Regions from separate parts of the Homo sapiens genome. Here region 1 is linked to region 2. The links come from fine-mapping of genetic effects on gene expression. Tissue or cell type: nasal epithelium. Region 2 holds a variant in brackets; the other region holds the start of a gene. All regions are shown on one strand. Distances are between the middles of the regions. Region 1 holds the start of NFRKB (nuclear factor related to kappaB binding protein). Region 2 overlaps TMEM45B (transmembrane protein 45B).

Evidence for each region. PIP is the estimated chance that this variant, and not a neighbour inherited with it, causes the effect.
Region 1: it holds the start of NFRKB, and the variant in region 2 is fine-mapped to the expression of NFRKB in nasal epithelium (TOPMed, PIP above 0.99).

Annotation. Positions count from the first base shown.
Region 1 is chr11:129,892,079-129,902,482 of GRCh38, forward strand. It overlaps NFRKB (nuclear factor related to kappaB binding protein), which reads right to left and starts at 3,500. Exons shown (of 27, transcript NM_001143835.2): 1 at 3,418-3,500; 2 at 2,281-2,360; 3 at 637-792. The coding sequence starts at 771. It overlaps PRDM10 (PR/SET domain 10), which reads right to left. Exons shown (of 21, transcript NM_199437.2): 21 at 7,633-10,404. The coding sequence ends at 10,235. RefSeq lists a silencer at 3,217-3,656.
Region 2 is chr11:129,839,020-129,849,648 of GRCh38, forward strand. The region is part of intron 1 of TMEM45B (transmembrane protein 45B); the gene reads left to right. Among named protein-coding and RNA genes, the nearest start is that of TMEM45B, 28 kb to the left of the region's middle. The variant C/T (reference allele first, on the strand shown) is at 6,588.

The DNA.
Region 1 (10,404 bases), 53 kb after region 2:
ATTGGGGGAACAGGTGGTGTCTGGTTACATGGGTGAGTTCTTTAGTGGTTATTTCTGAGATTTTGGTGCGCCTATCACCCAAGCAGTGTACACTGCACCCAATGTGTATTCTTTTACCCCTCACCCGACTCCCATCCTTCCCCCCAAGTCCCCAGAGTCCATTATCATTCTTATGCCTTTGTGTCCTCAAAGCTTGGCTGCCACTTATAAGTGAGAATGATGTTTGGTTTTCCATTCCCAAGTTCCTTCACTTAGAATAATGACCTCCAATTCCATCCAGTTTGCTGCAAATGCCATTATTTCATTCCTTTTTATGGCTGAGTAGTATTCCATGGTTAAAATACACAACCATTTTTAATGGATGAAAATTATCTTGTTAAAAATAGGGCTTAAATCATGTTATCAAGTTATTCTGGCATGTTATTAAACATGCGGAACGTAGCTTGTTTTCTTCCTTAATCGGATATTAAATAGACTCTAAACTTAAAAAAAAGATAAGAGATCAGGCTGCCTGCAATGTAGAAAATGAACAAAAGGGAGCACAAAAGACTGGAAATGTAGAGTGGAAAAGGTTTCCCACAGCTGTTACAAGGAAGCTGACAGAGAGGAAAAGGTCACAACCGTGTTACTACTCACATCCTCCAGAAGGTCCTCGGGCAGACTAACTCTGGTGCCTCCCAGGAGGCAATCCTCCATGATGCGCGTGCCATGGCCATCTCCACACGGACCAAGTTCCAGAGGATCTGTCAGCATATGGTCTAAGGAATCCATTGTTTCTTCTCCACAGGTACTCTGGACAAAGACATGCATCTTGAGACAGAAAGGCAGAAATTCCAGGGATCTAGTTGATGCTAACACTCCTCCAGGAAAACATTCAACCTCCAGCCAGTTCTTACACCTTATCCTTGCACCCTAATTACAGCTAAACAGCTCTCCTCCCTCCCTTTCACCACAGCATTCCCACTGGAATTTTCAAGTCTTACCTGGAAGAGCTCTTTTCTCAGAATGCTCCTACAGTAACTCCTAAATTCATAAATTTCATATGCCTTCATTTTACAGATGAGTAAAATGAGACTGAGAATAAATGATAAACAGATCACAATCTATAATTTACACTTCCCAGACCAATAATCACTCTCCCACAATGTAATTTCTGTAACAACTGTTTTTTAGCAATTAATTCTTTGTTGTTGGCTGGGTGCAGTAACTCACACCTACAATCTCAGTACTTTGGGAGGTCCAGGCGGGCAGTCCCCTTGAATCCATGAGTTTGAGACCAGCCTAGCGAACATGGCAAAACCCCTTCTCTACAAAAAAAAAAAAAAAAAAAAATCAGCCAGGCGTGGTGGCGCACGCCTGTAGTCCCAGCTACTCAGAAGGCTGAGGTGGGAGGATCGCTTGAACACGAGATGCAGAGGGTACAATAAGCCGTGATCACGCTACTGCACTCCAGCCTGGGCAACAGAGACCCTGTCTCAAAAAAAAAAAAAAAGGAAAGGAAAAAGAGAAAGAATATTGTTTGTTGTTCTTTCACAAAAGAAAATTTGCTGAAAATCAACATACACTAGTAAAATGCAAATGCTAACAGTCACTTTATGAGGGCCTATTAAAAGCCAGGCCTTTCACATATCTCATTTAATTCCTACAACTGTGCAAAGTAAGGTCATGGGTTATTACATCGGAATTAAAACTGAAAATCAGAGTAGGTCAGTAACTTGCCCAACCCCAGAGGCAGTACTGAAACTCAGGTCTACCTGCCTGCAAACCCATGTGCTTAATGCTACACACAATACCTCTTGTATAACCTCGCAACATTTAAATAATAAAAACGAACCTTACTGATATGACTTTATTAGTCCATATAAATTCCTGAGGTTCCACACACCTGACCATAACCACCAGTAAAGTCAATGGCCAATCTGCCTTTAGTTGGTCCATTTGATCCGTATAATCATGTAAATTAATGCTACTTTTCTCCTTCGTGTAATAACAGAACACTGCTGATCACCTTCAGAAAACTACATACCACAACATTTTCAGACTGATGGCTGGGATTAGGGGTCAAGTTGATAGCACAGGACTGCACAATGCTAACAGGACCACAGGGAGCTTAAACTCAATCACTCTACCAACATTTACTAAATCCATCCTTTCCAGCTCCTATTCCTACAAAGTGGGCTAAAAAGCATACTAAAATGAAAAGAAAAAAGGATGTTAACAGTCAAAACACCAGAATTCCATATTCCACATTCCACAAACACCACATTCCACAAATCTTACCACGCCAGGTGTCAATTTCCTTATTTGAGGAAGGGAAGCTGGACCAGGTCCTCCCTCCCGTTATTTCCAATTCTGGAATCCTGCAATGAATAATCTCTAGATGAGTGACAGTGTGAATTACGTAATACAGGTACTTTTCTTTTCCAAAATTCTCCAATGATAAAGAACAGTTCTAGAATAACTATATGTAAAATGAAGCATGTTCCACTAAATTATTTCAAGCTCCCTTGAAGAGATTTCAGATCCATGTAAAGATATAGCAGAAACTTAAGCGTTGAGTCAAGTCACGTGGGTGGTCCCCAAGCAACTGTGCCCCCTCATCACCCTTCAGCACATGGTGAAATGACATCCTCATCATGCCTATGCCTAAATAAGTGAAGCGGGTGAGACAGCACATAGCATGTGAGTTTAACAAAACTTCAAAATAGCACCAAAAAAAAATTGCAGAAGCAACCTGATGCTCAGAATAAAACCTTCTTAACAGAACTGGCATAGAACAGACTATCAACTGCAAAGTCAGTGTCCTACCTGCCTCTTAGGAGGTCTCTATACAACTTGCTCACAAGTTTCTTCAGTGACGGTGCGTGTCTAGCTAAAGTTAATCTAGTCCACTGACAACCTTTGCACTGCCACTATTCTGAACAGAATCTCAAAATACCAAAACCAGGCAGCTGCCAGGGAGTTGGACCCCGGAAGCCAAGGATTTCCAGATCTTCGGGCGTTCTGAACCTCTTCACTAGACCACGAAGGCCTCTCGGCCTCTCATCACTGGCTTTCAGCACCTGGTCTAACTTTCCCCGCTGGACCCTCCCCAACGCAGAAGCTAAACCCTCGGGTCCTTCCAGAGCAACCGCCGGCTCCAAAGCCCTCAACTCTGCAGCAAATTCCCCTCCGGTGCCAGCCCGGCTGGCCCAAGGCCCGGGTCCAATCCTCAGAACTGCACGGCTCGGCCCCGCCCCTCCCCCACGCCGTGCCTAACCCTAACCCCCAGCCTCACGCGTCGCACCGCTCCCCACGCCCCGCTCCCGCTCCCCACGCCCACACGGGCAGCGACCTCGCGGACCCAGCCGCCCGCTCCCGCTCCCTCCACTCCCAGGAGACACTTCAACCCTTTCGCCGCCCCTTGCCCGCCCTCACCTGAACCGCGGGCGCCGGCCCCCTAACCCGCAGCCCTTCTCCGGCCGCGGGCTCCCAGACGCACTCGCTCCCGCAAGGAGTCTGGGTGCGCGCACGCTCTGGGCCTGCGCGGCGGAAGGGGCGGGGCAGCGCGGGGCGGGGCCTGGAGGGTGCCGGGGCGGGGCCACAGCGGGCGGGTCCTGGAGCGGCTCGGGAGAGCGGAGGGTCGGCGAGGGTGCCTGCGCGCGGCTGGGCCTGGGGATGCAGGTTCCAGCCTGCTTGCGCGTCTCACCTGATTTAGGAGCTTCCAGAGGCCCCAGACAGTGCCTGTCTTTGCCTGACCGCGAATCAAAGTTCCATAGCCCGTGAGCGAAGGCACGTCTATTAGCTGACGTTTGCAGAGAGCATACCCTGCCCCAGGCCCTATGCTAAGCACTTTCTACCCACCGTCTTTGTGCTGCAGCCCTGTGAGCTATGCACTATTAGTGCCCATTTTACAGTTGAGGACATGAGTAGAACGCGACCTCAGCCTGTGCTTCCGAGTTCCTTCATTCCTCCTTCCCGTCCCCGGGCCCTCGATGTCCAGAAAGAATGTAAACACATCGAAGGATCACATTTTAAAGTTAAACTCCATCATTTTCCTCTTCTTAGATATGAAGGCCCCTTTCCTGTTATTCACTGGGTTTTGCTTAGTACGGCTTCACACTACTTATTCCAGGTACTCCCAGCAGTGGCGCAGAGACCATCCTCAGTTCTGTGTGTGGATGGGACCAGAGAAGCCGGCCGGCCGAGCTAATGTTCTTCCCTTCCTGGAAGAGAGTAGTTTCCAAACAACCCGATCTCTGTTCCTCTACTGGCTCCACATATGCTCTAAGTTCCTGTTACACTGTTGAGAGGCTCTTGAATTAGAAACTATCGAGTATAAATGGCAGTGGAATATCACTCTATAGTTGTCACCGATATTTCCCTTACCTTGAGATTGTGACAAGACCAGAAAGAGAAAAAGAGTAAAAACAATGTAAACTATAATTTTTGATAGACTTTGTTTTTTTAAAGTGGTTTAAAGTTAACAAAATTGAGCAGAAAGATATTTTCCAAATACTCCCCGCCCCACCTCCCCACATGCATCGCCTTCCCTTTATCAACATCCTCTACCAGAGTGGTACATTTCTTAGAACTGATGAACCCGGCCCGGCCTGGTGGCTCACGCCTGTAATCCCAACACTTTGGGAGGCCGAGGCGGGCGGATCCCGAGATCAGGAGATCGAGACCATCCTGGCCAACATGGTGAAACCGCGTCTCTACTAAAAATACAAAAATTCGCCGGTCGTGGTGGCGGGCACCTGTAGTCCCAGCTACTCGGGAGCTGAGGCAGGAGAATTGCTTGAACCGGGGAGGCGGAGGTTGCAGTGAGCCGAGATTGAGCCATTGCACTCCAGCCTGTCGACAGAGCGAGACAGAGCGAGACTCCATCTCAAACAAAAGAACTGATGAACCTACATTGATACATCATTACCCACCATCACAGTATAATGCAGAGTAATTTCACTGTCTTAAAAATCATCTGTGCTCTGCATATTCATCTCTCCCTCTCCTCTACCCCTGGCAACCGCTGATCTTTTTGTCTCCATAGTTTTGCCTTTTTCCAGAGTGTCATCTAGTTGGAATTACATAGTATGTAGCCGTTTCAGATTGGCTTCCTTCCCGTAGTAACAGGCATTGAAGTTTCCTCCATGTCTTTTCATGGCTTGATAGCTCCTATTTCTTTTTAGTGCTGAATAATATTCCATTGTGTCGATATATCACAGTTTTATCTATTCGCTTACTGAAAGATATCTTCATTGTTTCCAGGTTTTGGCAATTATGAATCAAGCAATTATGAATCAAACAACCCAGAAATCCAACCACCCACTCCAGGCATCTTTGCATGAACGTATCAAAAACACCTCAGTCCCAATGCCCAGGATCTTCCCCTTTGAGAGGCTGAGATGGGTGGATCACTTGAGCCCAGGAATTGGAGACCAGCCTGGGCAATATGGTGAAACCCCATCTCTACTAAAATAAATACAAAAAATTAGCCAGGTGTGGTGGCACGTGCCTGTAGTCCCAGCTACTCAGGAGACTGAGGTGGGAGAATCGCTTGAGCCAGGGAGATCGAAGCTGCCGTGAGCTGTGATTGCACCACTGCACTCCAGCCTGGGCAACAGAGTGAAACCCTGTCTCAAAAAAGTAAAAAGAAAAATAAAACAACAAAGAATAAGTAAGACTTTTCCTTTACCTTCATTATTAAAGGTAATAATGATGTTCTTTCTTTATATAGATCTGAGGTTCTGACTTTTATCATTTTTCTTCTCTCTGAAAAACTTAACATTCTCTCCAAGGCAGGTCTACTGGCAACAAATCCCCTTTGCTTTTGGGGGATAATTTCATGGGCTACAGCATTCTAGGTTAGACACTGCTTTTTTCTCTCAACACCTTAAACATTTCATTCCACTCGCTCCTTGTGTGCACAGTTTCTGAAGAAAAGTCATTTTTTGTTCATTTGTTTTTTGGTTTTGAAGGATTTTTTTGCATTTATCCTGTGTGTCCTCTGAGCTTCCCGGATCTGTGGTTTCATCTTCCATATTGATTTGGGGAAATAATCAATCATTATTGCTTCAAATATTTCTTCTGTTCCTTTCTCTGTCTTCTGCTAGTATTCCCATGAGGCATAGTTATACCTTTTTTTCATCATCTCACAGTTTTTGGATATTGTTTGTCTTTCAGTTATAGAGGTTTCTATTGAGATATCCTTAAGCTCAGCAATTCTTTCCTAAGATGTGTCTAGTCTACCATTTAGCCTCTCACAGCTACTCTTCATGTTTTTTTTTTTTTTTTTTTTTTTTTTGAGGTGGAGTCTTGCACTGTGACCCAGGCTGGAGTGCAGAGGCGCAATCTCAGCTCTCTGCAACCTCCACCACCCAGGTTCAAGCGATTCTCCCACTTCAGCCTCCTGAGTAGCTGGGATTACAGGCACCCACCACCACGCCTGGCTAATTTTTGTATTTTTAGTAGAAGCAGGGTTACACCGTGTTGGCCAGGCTGGTCTTGAACTCCTGACCTCAAATGATCCACCCACTTCAGCCTCCCAAAGTGCTGGGTTTACAGGCATGAGCTGCCGTGCCCAGCCTACTCTTCATTTTTTATCTCTAGCATTTTAGCTCATTCTTAGGATTTCCATCTCTCTCCTTACATTGTTTGTTATTGCTTGTTGTCTACTTTCTCTAGTAGAGCCCTTTTCATATTAATCACAGTTGTTTCAAATTCCCAGTCTGTGAATTCCAACATCTCGGCCATATCTAATTCTGGGTCTGATGTTTGCTCTCTTTCTTCAAACTTGTGTCTTTTGCCTCTTAGTATGCCTTGTAATGTTTTTCTTGATAGCTGGTCATGATGTGCCAGGTAGAGAGAGCTTCTGTAAGTAGGCCTTTAGCAATGTGGTGGTAAGGTGTTGGGGTTGGGGAAGCATTCTGTATTCCTAAAGGAGGCCTCAGTCTTCTGGTGAGCCTGTGCCTCTGGACTGTGAACTTCACGAATGCTACGCAGTTATCCCCTCTTAGATGAGGGACAATGGCTGGAATGGGCTGGGGCTGGCTATTTCCTTTCCTCCAGGTGACTGAGGTTCTGCTATAACTTCAGCAGGTTCGGTGCTTGTTATAATAGAAAGATCAGAAAGCTCTGGAGTATTTCAAAATGGTTCCTTCTCCCCTTCCTCTGCTGGAAGCATGAGGGAATTTTTCTCCAAATTTCACTGTGAGAACCTAGTCAAGCTCCTGGGGATAAAACTCACAAAAGTGTGGGTCTCCCTTGACCCCCCCTCCAGTGACTGAGTTCCCTGGAGTTTTTAACCTCTCAGATTTCTCCACGCTGAGCCTGCAGCAATTCATCAAATATAGTTCAAGTTTTCCTACCCTGGCGCTGGTTCTCATAGAGGTTATTGATCGTGGATTTTTTTCTCACGGGTTTCTGTTCAATAAGCTATGATTCTCTGTATTTGCCTGTTTGTCTTTCCAATTTTGGGGACAGCAGTTTGTCCTGTGGGCTCAACTTTCTGATGGATCTAAGGAGAGATGTTGATCTTTCCATTTGCTCAGCTTCTTACTTATTGCTAGGATGGAGGGACAACTTCCAAGCTTCCTGTATGCCACGCTGGAAACCAAAAGTTGCAATTCTTCAAAGAAAAAAAAATAGCTCTTGTAGCTTCACACATACAAACATGTTTATTAAAAAATATATTTATTAATTTTTACACCTGCTGCATAGCACAAGACTATTAACACTATAACTCACTGAATGTACAATAAATGTTCACATTTAAATAACAGGATAGGGTCAACATTTTCAACCAGTGGGTCAGCTTTAGCATCTCATGAAGTGCTTTTTAGACCTAGATATCTTAAGAGTTTTTTTGAAAGGATACTTCCAAGTCAGAAAACAAGAAGATCAAAACAATAGGTTTTTCCAGAATAACAGGAATTTTACATGATGAAATGTCTATTTCTGTCGGTACAAATCAATGATAAAAACAAAATCTACATCCAACCTACTCCAAAATACTCACACTGGACTGAATGAAGTCTACAGTGTCAATGTGTCTTGAGAGAGGCCACAATATCCACACTGGCTACATACATGTTTTCCAAATTAAGTTTTCTGATGGCTCATCATTTGCCATCTCTTCAAATCCAGGTCCTTTTAAAAATCTATGACCTTGGAATGAATGTGCAGAATACCTGATCTGAAAGCCATGCGATTTGGCTCGACTGCCATCCGCATCTCTGGCTGATAATATACAAATTAGTTTTAGAGTCTTTATTTCACTTAAGGACCAAAGAAGAAGAAGAAGAAGAAGAAGAAGAAGACAACTTAGAAGGGAAAGCAACAAAGAGGTCCTTCCACAATATTTTCCTCTGTGTATTTTAAAACTTAAAACAACTGCCATAAAATGAACATTCCATTCAGTGATTCTTTTCAGTTTTCCAATAAGTTATTCCTGAAGGGAGGGGAGATACCTTATGGTTCAAATTAAAAAGAACGTAACAGGGCCAAATTTAAGTTATAAAAGCTAAAACTGAACCTTTAGAAAATTCCACTAGTCTTCTCCTAGAAAGTCTTTCTAGACCGGACACTAGGATATTTGTAATCATTACACTGTGGGACTTAGGGAACCCGAACCTGTGTTTTGCAATGCAGGGTCAATATTTTCTGTTGAATATCTTTGTCACAAAGAGAGTCCATTTTCAGTTTCCATATGTTTATGAAGTAATTTTCTCAAGTTCTCTTAGTACTCAAACATTGGGGAACAACTACATGAACGCAGTCTCAGAAATAAAGTGCGAAATCTACACATCAATAAAGTTCTTTTAACAGAATTGTTCACTTTTCAGAAAATTGTCTTTATCATAAAGAAGCTACTCTACTTAATTTATAGAACCAGTTTTTACCCAGAAATGTAAATTAATTAACTTCATTTGAAATGAAGTAAGGTCTTTCTGTTCTGGAGTAATAAATTCTACTATGCAATAATTATTCTGAAAATGTGTTAGCATGTCACAAAAAGTTAAAATATATACTGATTTTTTAATGCCCAACTAATAGTATATTCATAAAGACTGGATTTCTTCCAGATCCCTTATAACTACCTGAATTATTAGAAGTGGCCATCACATTTTAATTTTTTCCCTAAGTGTGAAGTTGACCGTCTTATTAAAAGGTCTAGATGAGTCACAATATGTTTAAAGTTAAAAATGTTAATAAATAAGAAATGCCACCTTCCTGTCCAACTTTAAAGAATGTTCATTTTAAGACAGCATTAAAAGTAATAAAATACACTGAACATGTCAGCAAGAGTTAAATGTACACTTGGTAAGAACAAGGAATATATCCTTTACCAATGAATGATAAATGGATCCTGCAAGGCAGAACAAAATTTCAATACTTTCTCTCTCTCTCTCTCAATAGTTTTGGAAATTTTTCTTGGTACCAATATCTCCTTCTTACCACCACCACAACCACAGAATGGGAGGCAAAGCTTTAATGTAGGGGTTTAGATTCTGCTGACATCAAGCAGCCTTTTCTCTTTCAGGTTGTCCACCTTTGTGAAATAATGAAGAACTATCAGAACATGAGCTTCTGACCTAATCCACTGAGGACCAGCATCTGTGGAAAGCACTACCAACAGCCCAACAATAGTTTTCTAAAATAGGGAAGTTAAAAAAAATCAGCAAGAAAAATTTAGATGACAGTTTTTGCTTCAGAATATCACTGTCAAACTTTTGTTTCATCATTTTAATTTTGTTATTCAGCAGGCTCCCTTTGTTAAATTACTGAAAACTAAAACAAGATAAAGCAGTTCAGACCTAATGCACACCCACAAAATGCCCCTTCTCCTTTGGTGCCATGGCTTGGAATAAGAAGTCCAGTAACCATGAACTTGGCACATCCTGTCTCCACCTTTGGTATGAACACAATATGCCACTTAATATTTCCACAAAGGAAAAGTAAGGCTCGTCAGTATGTTAAAAGACCAGCTCAAGAGCAAGGCAAATTCTCTCCACCTCGAAATCTACTTTCCCCTGAAAGATCTCTGTTCTGTGGCAAAAACCGAGGGTTTGAAGAGTCAATTTGATAAAGATGACCTTGGCAAAATAAACCCCAGTGTATGGATGAGAGACAAAACTGTGGTTTCCGAACTCTTGAGTGAATAATAAATCTTACAAAAGAGCTCTACGTGTCAGAGCTTTCAGACTTATGAGAACAGACATGAGGTGGGTGCTGGATTCAAGCTCCAGGGTGGAAGTCATGGTTTGGTGATATGCACTTCGCTGCTTCCGTTCCCGTTGGTGGTGGTGGTGATGATGTACTGTGTGGTCTGCTGTTGGCTGTTGGTCTGGGGGTCCAGGGAGTCACTGTGTGCAGGTGGCTCGACCTGGACTCCACCAGAGAGGGCAGAAGTTTGCTTTTCTTCCA
Region 2 (10,629 bases):
TCTGGTTTCCTTGCTCCTCATTCTCCCTTACTCTTGCCTCCATTTTCTCTTTCTGACTCCTTCTACCTTATCTTCTATTTCACTTATCTCAAATGAGAGAGCGAGAGAAGGAAGGAGAGAGGGAGGGAGGGAAGGATCCAATGATCTCCCTAGATATGAAATAAAAAGGAACAGTTGCCCAAACCTCCAGTCTTCTTGGTGGCCAGCTTGGTTGCTATTTTTAATACTAGGCCATAGCAGCAGATCAGCTGGGGATTTAATAGGGAGATTCTGGAAATGAGAGTCATGGAAGTGTTGAGATGAGGTCTTCACACATCCCTGGCCGAGTGGAAAAGCTATGCATCTATAGGGAAGACCTGAGACAGCCCAGCAGAAAGTGAAAGGCAAAGTTACTACCTGTCCAAAACATTCAATCCTCCCCTCACACTCCCATTCTATCTCATGTGAAATTTAAAAAAAAGGAAATATATTGAAATAAGAAAGTTGGGGAATTTGCCTTTGTGAAAGCACTTATTTTTTTCCTTTGGAGACAGGGTCTCACTGTGTCACCCAGCGGTGGAGTGACACGGAGTGTCAGCGGTGCAATCACGGCTCACTGCAGCCTCAACCTCACAGGCTCAAGCAATCCTCCCATCTCAGCCTCCCGAGTAGCTTGGACTACAGGCGTGCCCTTCCATGCCCAGGTAATTTATTTTTAGTAGAGACGGGTCTCACTCTGTTGCCCAGGCTGATCTTGAACACCTGGGCTCAAGCAATCTTCCCGCCTCAGGCTTCCAAAGTGCTGGGATTACAGGTGTGAGCCACTGCACCTGACCTAAAAGCACTATCTGATATTTGTTTTCCTATTTGTAAGTTTGTCCTTAGATTGAAAGGTTTTGTTGTATATTGCCCACACCAGTTGTGTATATTAGGAAACACATTCCTTAAGTACTTTTTTATTTAACATGTATTTTATTTAAATGTTTTTAATGCTAAACCACAGCAGGGGCTTAGCCTATATTTGGAAAATGGGTTATCCAAATTATTTAGAAGTCCAAATTTTTATTGTTCTACTTGAAGTTATTTATTACCTTATTCCTCCTGTAACTAAAACTAACTCATCCTCCATCTCCTCCACGTGTTCCATAATGTAGCTAATCTAATGAACTAATCCATTAATTTGTTATTGGAAGAAATATAGCCCATCCCCATCAAATCAAAGTACTCAGTCTTCTATGAATCATACATAAGTTTAAATAAATTTCTACAGACATGCTGCAGGCCCTGCTGTCCACTGGTGTGAATTTTAGACGAGGTAAAAGGGAAGGGTGGGTCTTGACAAGCTGGTATCAAGTACATAGAGGCAGACAAGGACTCTGCCTTTATTTCAGGTACTGCTTCTGAGAAAAATGAGGAAGTGCAGGGAGGAGGGAAGCCGGTTAGTCACTGTGCAGTTTTGACCTACATTTGCAAAGCTGGTTTTTCTGCACCTTTGCCTAGGAAAATGAAGTATAATAAGCTTGATATTGAAAGGGACCTGTGTTAAACATTAAACAAACATGTAAATTTTTTATGTTCAAAGGAGGGTTTAAAAAGAAAGCGGGCTGGGCACAGTGGCTCACGTCTGTAATCCCAGCATTTTGGGAGGCTGAGGCAGGTGGATCACTTGAGGTCAGGAGTTCTATATCAGCCTGACCAACATGGTGAAACCCTGTCTCTACTAAAAATACAAAAAAATTAGCTGGGCGTGGTGGTGCACGCCTGTAATCCCAGCTACTTGGGAGACTGAGGCAGGAGAATCGCTTGGAGGCAGAGGTTGCAGTGAGCCAAGATTGCACCATTGCACTCCAGCCTGGGCAACAAGAGCGAAACTCCATCTCAAAAAATAATAACGAGGAGAAGGCCTTCCAGTTATGGCAGCACAAAGAGGCAGGCAATTTCTTTCTGTAAAAAAAAAAAAAAAAAAAAAAAAGCAACAAACAACCAAAAAATATATAAAACTAGACAAAATTGTTTATCAAAACCAAGCATTTCAGGGAACTGGAAATTGACAAAATGCAGGCAAAAAATTGAGCAGCATTTATTCTTGAAAAACTACTAGATCTTCAGGCAAGTAGGAGATGGTGGCTTTTTTTGCCTGTGGCTGCTCCCATCACCCCCCAGCTCAGCCAATGACTTTTAAGTAAGATGGGGCTGGCCATGAAAACTGCCACACAAACAGATTCAATTCAGAGCAGTGGCTGGGGGGTTGAAAATCCTTGGCTTTGCTGGCTTAACATGGGAATGAACACTTGGAAATGAGCAGGACAAATCCACAGCTTCGCTAGCTTGAGGTTGCAGCCCCACTTGGGGCAAGCAGCAGGCCAACCAGGAATTTAACAGGGGGATTCTGGAAATGAGAATCAGAGAAGTATTGAAGTGAGCTCTTCACGCATCCCTGGCTGACTGAAAAAACTATGCATATATGGAGAAGACCTGAGAGAGCCCAGCAAGGGAGATAAGGGACTTGAAAACTGGCCTTCTCCAACCCCCACACAGAGGGACTGACAGGGGTTGGAAGTGTAATGGGCTTGAAGTTTTCTTTTGTTTTTTTGTTTTTTTTTTTTTTTTGGAGACAAGAGTCTCACTCTGTCGCCCGCCCAGGCTGGAGTGCAGTGACGTGATCTCAGCTCACTGCAACTTCTACCTCCTGGGTTCAAGTGATTCTCCTGCCTCAGCCTCCCAAGTTGCTGAGATTACAGGCACCCACTACCACGCCCGGCTAATTTTTTGTATTTTTAGTAGAGATGGGGTTTCGCCATGTTTGCCAGGCTAGTCTTGAACTCCTGACCTCAAGTGATCCACCCGCCTCGGCCTCCCAAAGTGCTGGGATTACAGGCATGAGCCACTGCGCCCGGCCTCAGAGAATTAAAGAAAACTGTTCAAGGAATTAAAAGAAAATATGATTTAAATGACTCGACAAATAGGGAATCTAAATAGAGAAATACAAACTGTAAAAAGAATTAAATGGAAATTCTGGAGTTGGAAGGTACAATTTCGAATTCACTAGATGGGCTCAATAGCAGATTTTGAGATAGTGGAAGAACTAGTGAACATGAAAATAGACCAATAGAAATGATCCAATTCGAAAAACAGAAAGAAAAATGAAGACAAATGAACAGACCTTCAGACACACATGGGATGATGCTCAATGTCCCCACATACGTGTAATGGAAGCCGCAGAAAGGGAGAGAGAAAAAAATAAAGAAGTAATAGCTGAAAGCTTCCCAGGTTTGATGAAAGATATTGAATTGCAGATTTTTTTTAAAACTCAACCAACACTGAATTTAAAAAACACAAAGAGAACCACACAGGAAGGACAAAGCCAGAAGCATCACACTTCCTGTGTTCAAATTATATTATAAAGCTATAGCAATCAAAACAATATAGTACTGGCATAAAAACACACATAGAGCAATGGAACAGAATTGAAAGCACAGAAATAAACCCACTCATATAAGGTTAACTAATCTTCTACAAGGTGTCAAGAACAAGAATGAGGAAAGAATAGTATCTTCAATAAATGGTGCTGGAAAAACTGGATATCCACATGCAAAAAAAAATAAGGAAATTGGATCTTTATCTTCCACCATATACAAAAATCAACTAAAGGTGGATGAAAGATTTAAATGTAAGACCTAAAATGGTAAAACTCCTAGAAGAAAATATGCAGGGAAAGATACATGACATTGGTGCTAGCGTTGATTTCTTTTTTGATATGACAACAAAAGCACAGGCAACAAAAGCAAAAGTAAAGGAGTAGGATTGCATCAAAGTAAAAAGCTTTTGCATAGCAAAGAAAACCATGAAGAGAGTAAAGATACCCATAGAATGGGAGAAAATATTTGCAAACCATATATGCAATAAGGAGCTAAATCCAAAATATACAAGAAACTCTTACTACTCAATAGTAAAAAACAAATAACCCTATTAAAAAGTAGGCAACAGGCTGAGTGCAGTGGTGCAATCTCGGCTCACTGTAACCTCCGCCTCTCAGGTTCAAGCGATTCTTCTGCCTCAGCCTCCCGAGTGGCTGGAACTACAGGCATGCGCCACCACGGCTGGCTAATTTTTTGTATTTTTGGTAGAGATGGAGTTTTGCCATGTTGGCCAGGCTGGTCTTGAATTCCTCACCTCAGGTGATCCGCCTGCCTCAGTCAGCCTCCCAAAGTGCTGGGATTACAGGCATGAGCCACTGTGCCCAGCCTATTTTAGACTTTTTGATTGCCCTATGATCTCAGTTCTCAAATGAGTTTAGGAAAAGTTATGATTTTGTAGTTTATCTGCTATCGTTGCTGTTAGGGTGTAATACTCATCCCAGCTTTCCGCATCCTGGATTCTTTGTGTTTTAATAATTGTTTACTATAATCTATTTCATATGTTCTAATGTATACAATGCCAATTGATGTTTGCTTTTATGTATTTGCAGTTTTGATTTCTTCTTTGACCCAAAGTTATTTAGTGACTTAAAAAATGTTTAAGGTGATTGAGATTTTTGTAAAAGAAAATATTTCTGTTGTTATAGCATTGTAGTCAAAGAATGTAGGCAATAAATTTTCTGCTTTGAGAAAAAAAAAAAAAAGTGGGCAAAGGACCTGCATAGACATTTCTCTAAAGAAGACATACAATGGCCAAGTGGTTTATGAAAAGATGCTCAACATCACTAATCGTCAGGGAAATGTAAATCAAAGTCACAATAAGATATTACCTTATACCTGTTGGGATGGCTGTTGCCAAAAAATCAAAACAAAAAACAAAACAAGATTGGTGTGGATGTGGATAAAGGGAACCTTTACATACTGTTGGTGGGAATGTGAATTGGTACATCTATTATGGAAAACAGTGTGGAGGTTTCTCAAAAAATTAAAAATAGAGCTACCCTATGATCCAGCAATTTCACTTCTGTGTATATATCGAAAGCAAATAAACTCCCTATCTTGAAAAGATATCTGCCCTCCCATGGTCACTGCAGCTTTGTTTGCAATAGCCAAGATATGGAAACAATCTAAGTGTTCACTGATTGATGAATGGACAAAAAAAATGTGGTGTATATATATATAGAATGGGATATTATTCAGCCTTAAAAAAGAAGGAAATCCTGCTATTTGCAACAACATGGATGAACCTTGAAGACCTTATACTAAGGGAAATAAGCCAGACACAGAAAAAATGCTGTGTGATCTCACTTATATGTGGAATCTAAAATAATCAAACTGGATATAAACAGAATAGAATACCTGTTACCAGGGTTCTGGAGCAGTGGGGGAAATGGGGAGATATTGGTCAAAGGGTACAAACTTGCAGTTATGAGTAAATTTTGGAGACCTAATGTACAGGAGGGTGACTATCATTAATAATAATATACTGGCCAGGCACAGTGGCTTATGTCTGTAATCGCAGCACCTTGGGAGTTTGAGGCGAGAGAATAGCCTGAACCCAAACATTCAAGACCAGCCTGGGCAACATAGCGAGACGTTGTCTCTACAAAAAATTTTTTAAATTGGCCAGGCGTGGTGGCCTGCACCTGTAGTCCTAACTACTTATGAGGCTGAGGCGGAGGATCACTTGAGCCCAAGAAGTTCAGGGCTGCAGTGAACTATGATTATGCCACTGCACTCCACCCTCGGTGATAGGGCGAGACCCTGTCTCTAAAAATAATAGTAATAATAATAAACCTTATATTTGACATTTGCTAAGAGAGTAGATCTTAAGGATTCTCATTACAAAGGAAAGGAAAGGGTACCAGGTAAGGTGATAACTCTGTTAATTAGCTTGATCATACCAATCATTTCACAATGTATACATATATCAAATCATCATGTTATATACCCTGAGTATATACAATTTTTATTTGTCAATTATACCGCAATAAAGCTGAAAAAATATTAAAGGACATCCTTCAGGTCGAAAGAAAATGAGGTTTTAGAGTTATTAAAATGGACAGAAAGAAATGAAGAACGCTGGAAATGGTAAATATGTGATTAAATATCAAAGAATATATATATATTCATGCTTTGAAAAATGTAAAATTGCTTCAAGAAATAATTGCCACACCATTAGTTTATAACCTAGACTTTATATATTCTTAAATCTTAAAAACTTTATAACAAGCCCAAACATAAATATGATATGTACATATATGTGTACACACACACGCACACGTCTCTGCCTGTTTATTAGAGTGGCTTATTTAGTCCATTCATATATATTAATGGCTTATTTTGTGTGTGTGTATGTGTGTGTGTGTGTGTGTGTGTGTGTATGCATGAAGGAAGGGGTAGGAAATAGAGCTATTATAGATGTGTGTGTGTGTGTGTGTGTGTGTGTGTGTATGCATGAAGGAAGGGGTAGGAAATAGAGCTATTATATATTGGAACAAAGTCACTATATTTTATCAGAATTAAGTTACTATTAAAATAGACCATGGTAACTTCAAGATGCATACTATAATCCCTAGACTAGAGCATGCAGTAGGAAAAAAATATATATAGCTTAAAATATGAAAAAAGTAATTAAAATGGTATACTAAAATTACTTGTTAGACATAAATGACAGCAGGAAATGAGGCA[C/T]GGAGGAACAAAAAAATGCATGAGTGACAGAAAACAAATAGCAAAATGACAACTATAAATATAACCACACCAATAATTACATTAATATGAATGGACTAAATAAACCGTCCCAATAAAAAGGCAGAGATTGTCAACTATGCAAATTCTCAAGGAATTTCCCTTTTATGCATAGTTTTGGGAATGCTAGACTTATATTAATGGAAATAAGCCAAGAAAGAAAAATAAATGGCATCCAAGAAACAGGGGATCCAAAACAAGGAAAAGCCTCTTCTGGAAGCTGCAGCAAAAGGTAGGGTGGGTGGAAAACAAGAAAAAGGCAAAGGGAATTTGTAAGATGGTGCAGAATGCCCCAGGAGGACAGACAGCCAGTTCAATTTTAAAGAGAATATTCTCAAAACAGGTCTCTAGGAATAAAACAGAAATAAGTTATCTGAGGTTAAAATGTCTAGAATTTAATTTGGTCAACATTTGACAGATCTTTTAGCCCTTTGGAGGAAAAACATAGTGATCAGTATTTGGGAAGATAAACAAGTAAAAAAACAATGCAATTATTAACCCCAGAATAAAACAAAAGTGTTAGGCCAGGTGCGGTGGCTCACGCCTGTAATCCCAGCATGTTGGGAGGTCAAGGCAGGTGGATCACCTGAGGTCAAGAATTCAAGACCAGCCTGGTCAACATGGTGAAACCCTGTCTCTACTAAAAATACAAAAATTAGCCAGGCGTGGTGGCACCATCCTTCATTCCAGCTACTCAGGAGGCTGAGGCAGGAGAATCGCTTGAACACATAGGTGGAAGTTGCAGTGAGCAGAGATCATGCCACTGCACTCCAGCCTGGGCGACAGAGCAAGACTCTTTCTCAAAAAAAAAAAAAAGTGTTAGAGAAAACATAACCCATAATACACTACTTGGATCTGCATTCATTCATTCCACAAGTATTTACTGAGTGCTCACTCTGTGTCTGGCCCTGCGGTAAGCTGTGGACTAACCACAATAAGCAAATAGATCAAATCTCTGCTTTCCAGAGGCCCACATTTTAGTGGATGATGACAGATGCTTAAAAAAAAATCAGTCTGCAATATCAGATGGTGATTCATACTTTACAGAAAAGTTACAAGTCTACATAGATTGAAAAGTGGGGCAGGCCTCTATTGTACATGCAGGAGTCACGGAATAAAGTGGCATTTGAACAGAGACCTGAGTAAAGTGAAGGAGACAACTGTTGGCTGCCTGTGGGAACACTGTTCTAGAAGCCACAGACAGTGCAATGTCCTGAAGCAGGAATGGAGTGTTCTCAGCCATTTAAGGGAATGGAAGGGATCCAGTGTGGCAGGGGATGAGTGCTGGGAGAAATCAAAGAGATGGCTCAGGATCGTATATGGCCTTATTGGCCCTGGTAAGGACTTTGGATTTACAGAGCCATGATAATGAAACTAATGATTTCAACAAACGAGTATAATGCAACTGCTATGAAAATAGCAGGGTGGGGAAGAGGGAGAGGCTGTGAGAGAGCTCCAGGAAGTTGGTAGGTGATGCCTGACAATGATGGATTAACAAATGACCACATGCACAAAGCATTAGGTTGGTGCAAAAGTAATTGTGGTTTTTGCCATTACGTTTGCACCCACCCATTAACTACAATGGTGGAGGTAAATACCGGAGGAAACAGCTGAAAGGGTTGAAAGTGGCTTTGCTGGGGGTGAGGAGGGACAGAACATGAGGCTGTTGCTTTTCACTATAAGTCTTTCATACGAGTTGATTTTCTGAAAACTGTAAGCATTTTTTTAAAAGCTTATGAAGTTATTTTTTTTTATTTTTTTTTATTGATCATTCTTGGGTGTTTCTCGCAGAGGGGGATTTGGCAGGGTCACAGGACAATAGTGGAGGGAAGGTCAGCAGATAAACAAGTGAACAAAGGTCTCTGGTTTTCCTAGGCAGAGTGTGTGTGTCCCTGGGTACTTGAGATTAGGGAGTGGTGATGACTCTTAACGAGCATGCTGCCTTCAAGCATCTGTTTAACAAAGCACATCTTGCACCGCCCTTAATCCATTTAACCCTGAGTGGACACAGCACATGTTTCAGAGAGCACAGGGTTGGGGGTAAGGTCATAGATCAACAGGATCCCAAGGCACAATTTTTCTTAGTACAGAACAAAATGAAAAGTCTCCCATGTCTACTTCTTTCTACACAGACACAGCAACCATCCGATTTCTCAATCTTTTCCCCACCTTTCCCCCTTTTCTATTCCACAAAACCGCCATTGTCATCATGGCCCGTTCTCAATGAGCTGTTGGGTACACCTCCCAGATGGGGTGGTGGTGGCCGGGCAGAGGGGCTCCTCACTTCCCAGTAGGGGCGGCCGGGCAGAGACGCTCCTCACTTCCTAGATGGGATGGCGGCCGGGCAGAGACGCTCCTCACTTTCCAGACTGGGCAGCCAGGCAGAGGGGCTCCTCACATCCCAGACGATGGGCGGCCAGGCAGAGACACTCCTCACTTCCCAGACGGGGTGGCGGCCGGGCAGAGGCTGCAATCTCGGCACTTTGGGAGGCCAAGGCAGGCAGCTGGGAGGTGGAGGTTGTAGCCGAGATCACGCCACTGCACTCCGGCCTGGGCACCATTGAGCACTGAGTGAACGAGACTCCGTCTGCAATCCCGGCACCTCGGGAGGCCGAGGCTGGCGGATCACTCGCGGTTAGGAGCTGGAGACCAGCCCGGCCAACACAGCGAAACCCCGTCTCCACCAAAAAAATACGAAAACCCGTCAGGCGTGGCGGCGCGGGCCTGCAATCCCAGGCACTCGGCAGGCTGAGGCAGGAGAATCAGGCAGGGAGGTTGCAGTGAGCCGAGATGGCAGCAGCACAGTCCAGCTTCGGCTCGGCATGAAAGGGAGACCGTGGAAAGAGAGGGAGAGGGAGAGGGAGAGGGCTTATGAAGTTCTTGATGATGGGTGGGACCCTCATCTGTCAATGTGTAAGATGTGAAACAGCCCTGACAATGTAGCTGGTGCTAGAGGGACGGGCCTGTGTCCAGGGTTGGAATATGCTGTGCAGACCAGGAATGCTTTACATTCCGGGGTGGTCTTTTCTAGATCACTGTCTCAGTCTGCTTGTGCTGCTACAACAAAATACCACAGACTGGGTAACTTATAAAGAACAAATTTATTTCTCACAGTTCTGAAGGTTTGGAGGTCCAATATCAAGGCACTGGTATGTGGTGTCTGTTGAAGGCTGTAGCCTCACATGGCAGAAAGGGCAAAAAAGGGAAGCAACTCCCTCCATTCAGCCCTTTATAAGGGTGCTTAATCCCATCCACAAGGGAGGAACCTTCATGGCTTAATCAGCTCTTAAAGGCCCCACATCTAATACTATCACACCGGCAACACCTGAATTTTGGAGGGGACCCATTCACACCATAGCATTCCAATCCTGGCCCCCCAGAATTCACGTACTTCTCACAAACAAAATACATTCATTCCACCACAATTGCCCTCAAAAGCCTTAAATCATTCCAACATGAACTTTAAAATCTAAGTCCAGAATCTTATCTAAGTCAGGTGTGAGAGAGACTCATTCACTTTGAGATAAATTTCATCCTGAGGCAAATTTCTCTCCAGCTGTGAGCCTGTGAATTCAAATGAGTTGCGTACTTTGATTCAAATACAATGGCGTGACAGGCACAGGACAGATGTTTCTAGTCCAAAAGGGAGAAACAGGAAGGAAGAAAGGAGTAACAACAGGTCTCAAGTGAGTCCAAAACTCAACATTAGATCTTAGGCTTGAGAATAATATTATCTGACTCCATATCTCACCTTCTGAACACACTGGGGTGGGTGTTGGGCCCCCAAGGCTCCAGGTGATACCACCTCCAAGGCTTCCCTAAGTATTGGCCTACTGGGGGCTCTCTGCAGTGGCTCCACCCCGGTGACAAATCTCTGCTCGGGCCCTGAGGTCAAAGAAATCCTTTCCATCGAGGTGGAGGCGGCCGTGCTCCCACAGCTCATACAGTATGCATACCTACAGAGTCAGCACCACATGGATGCCAC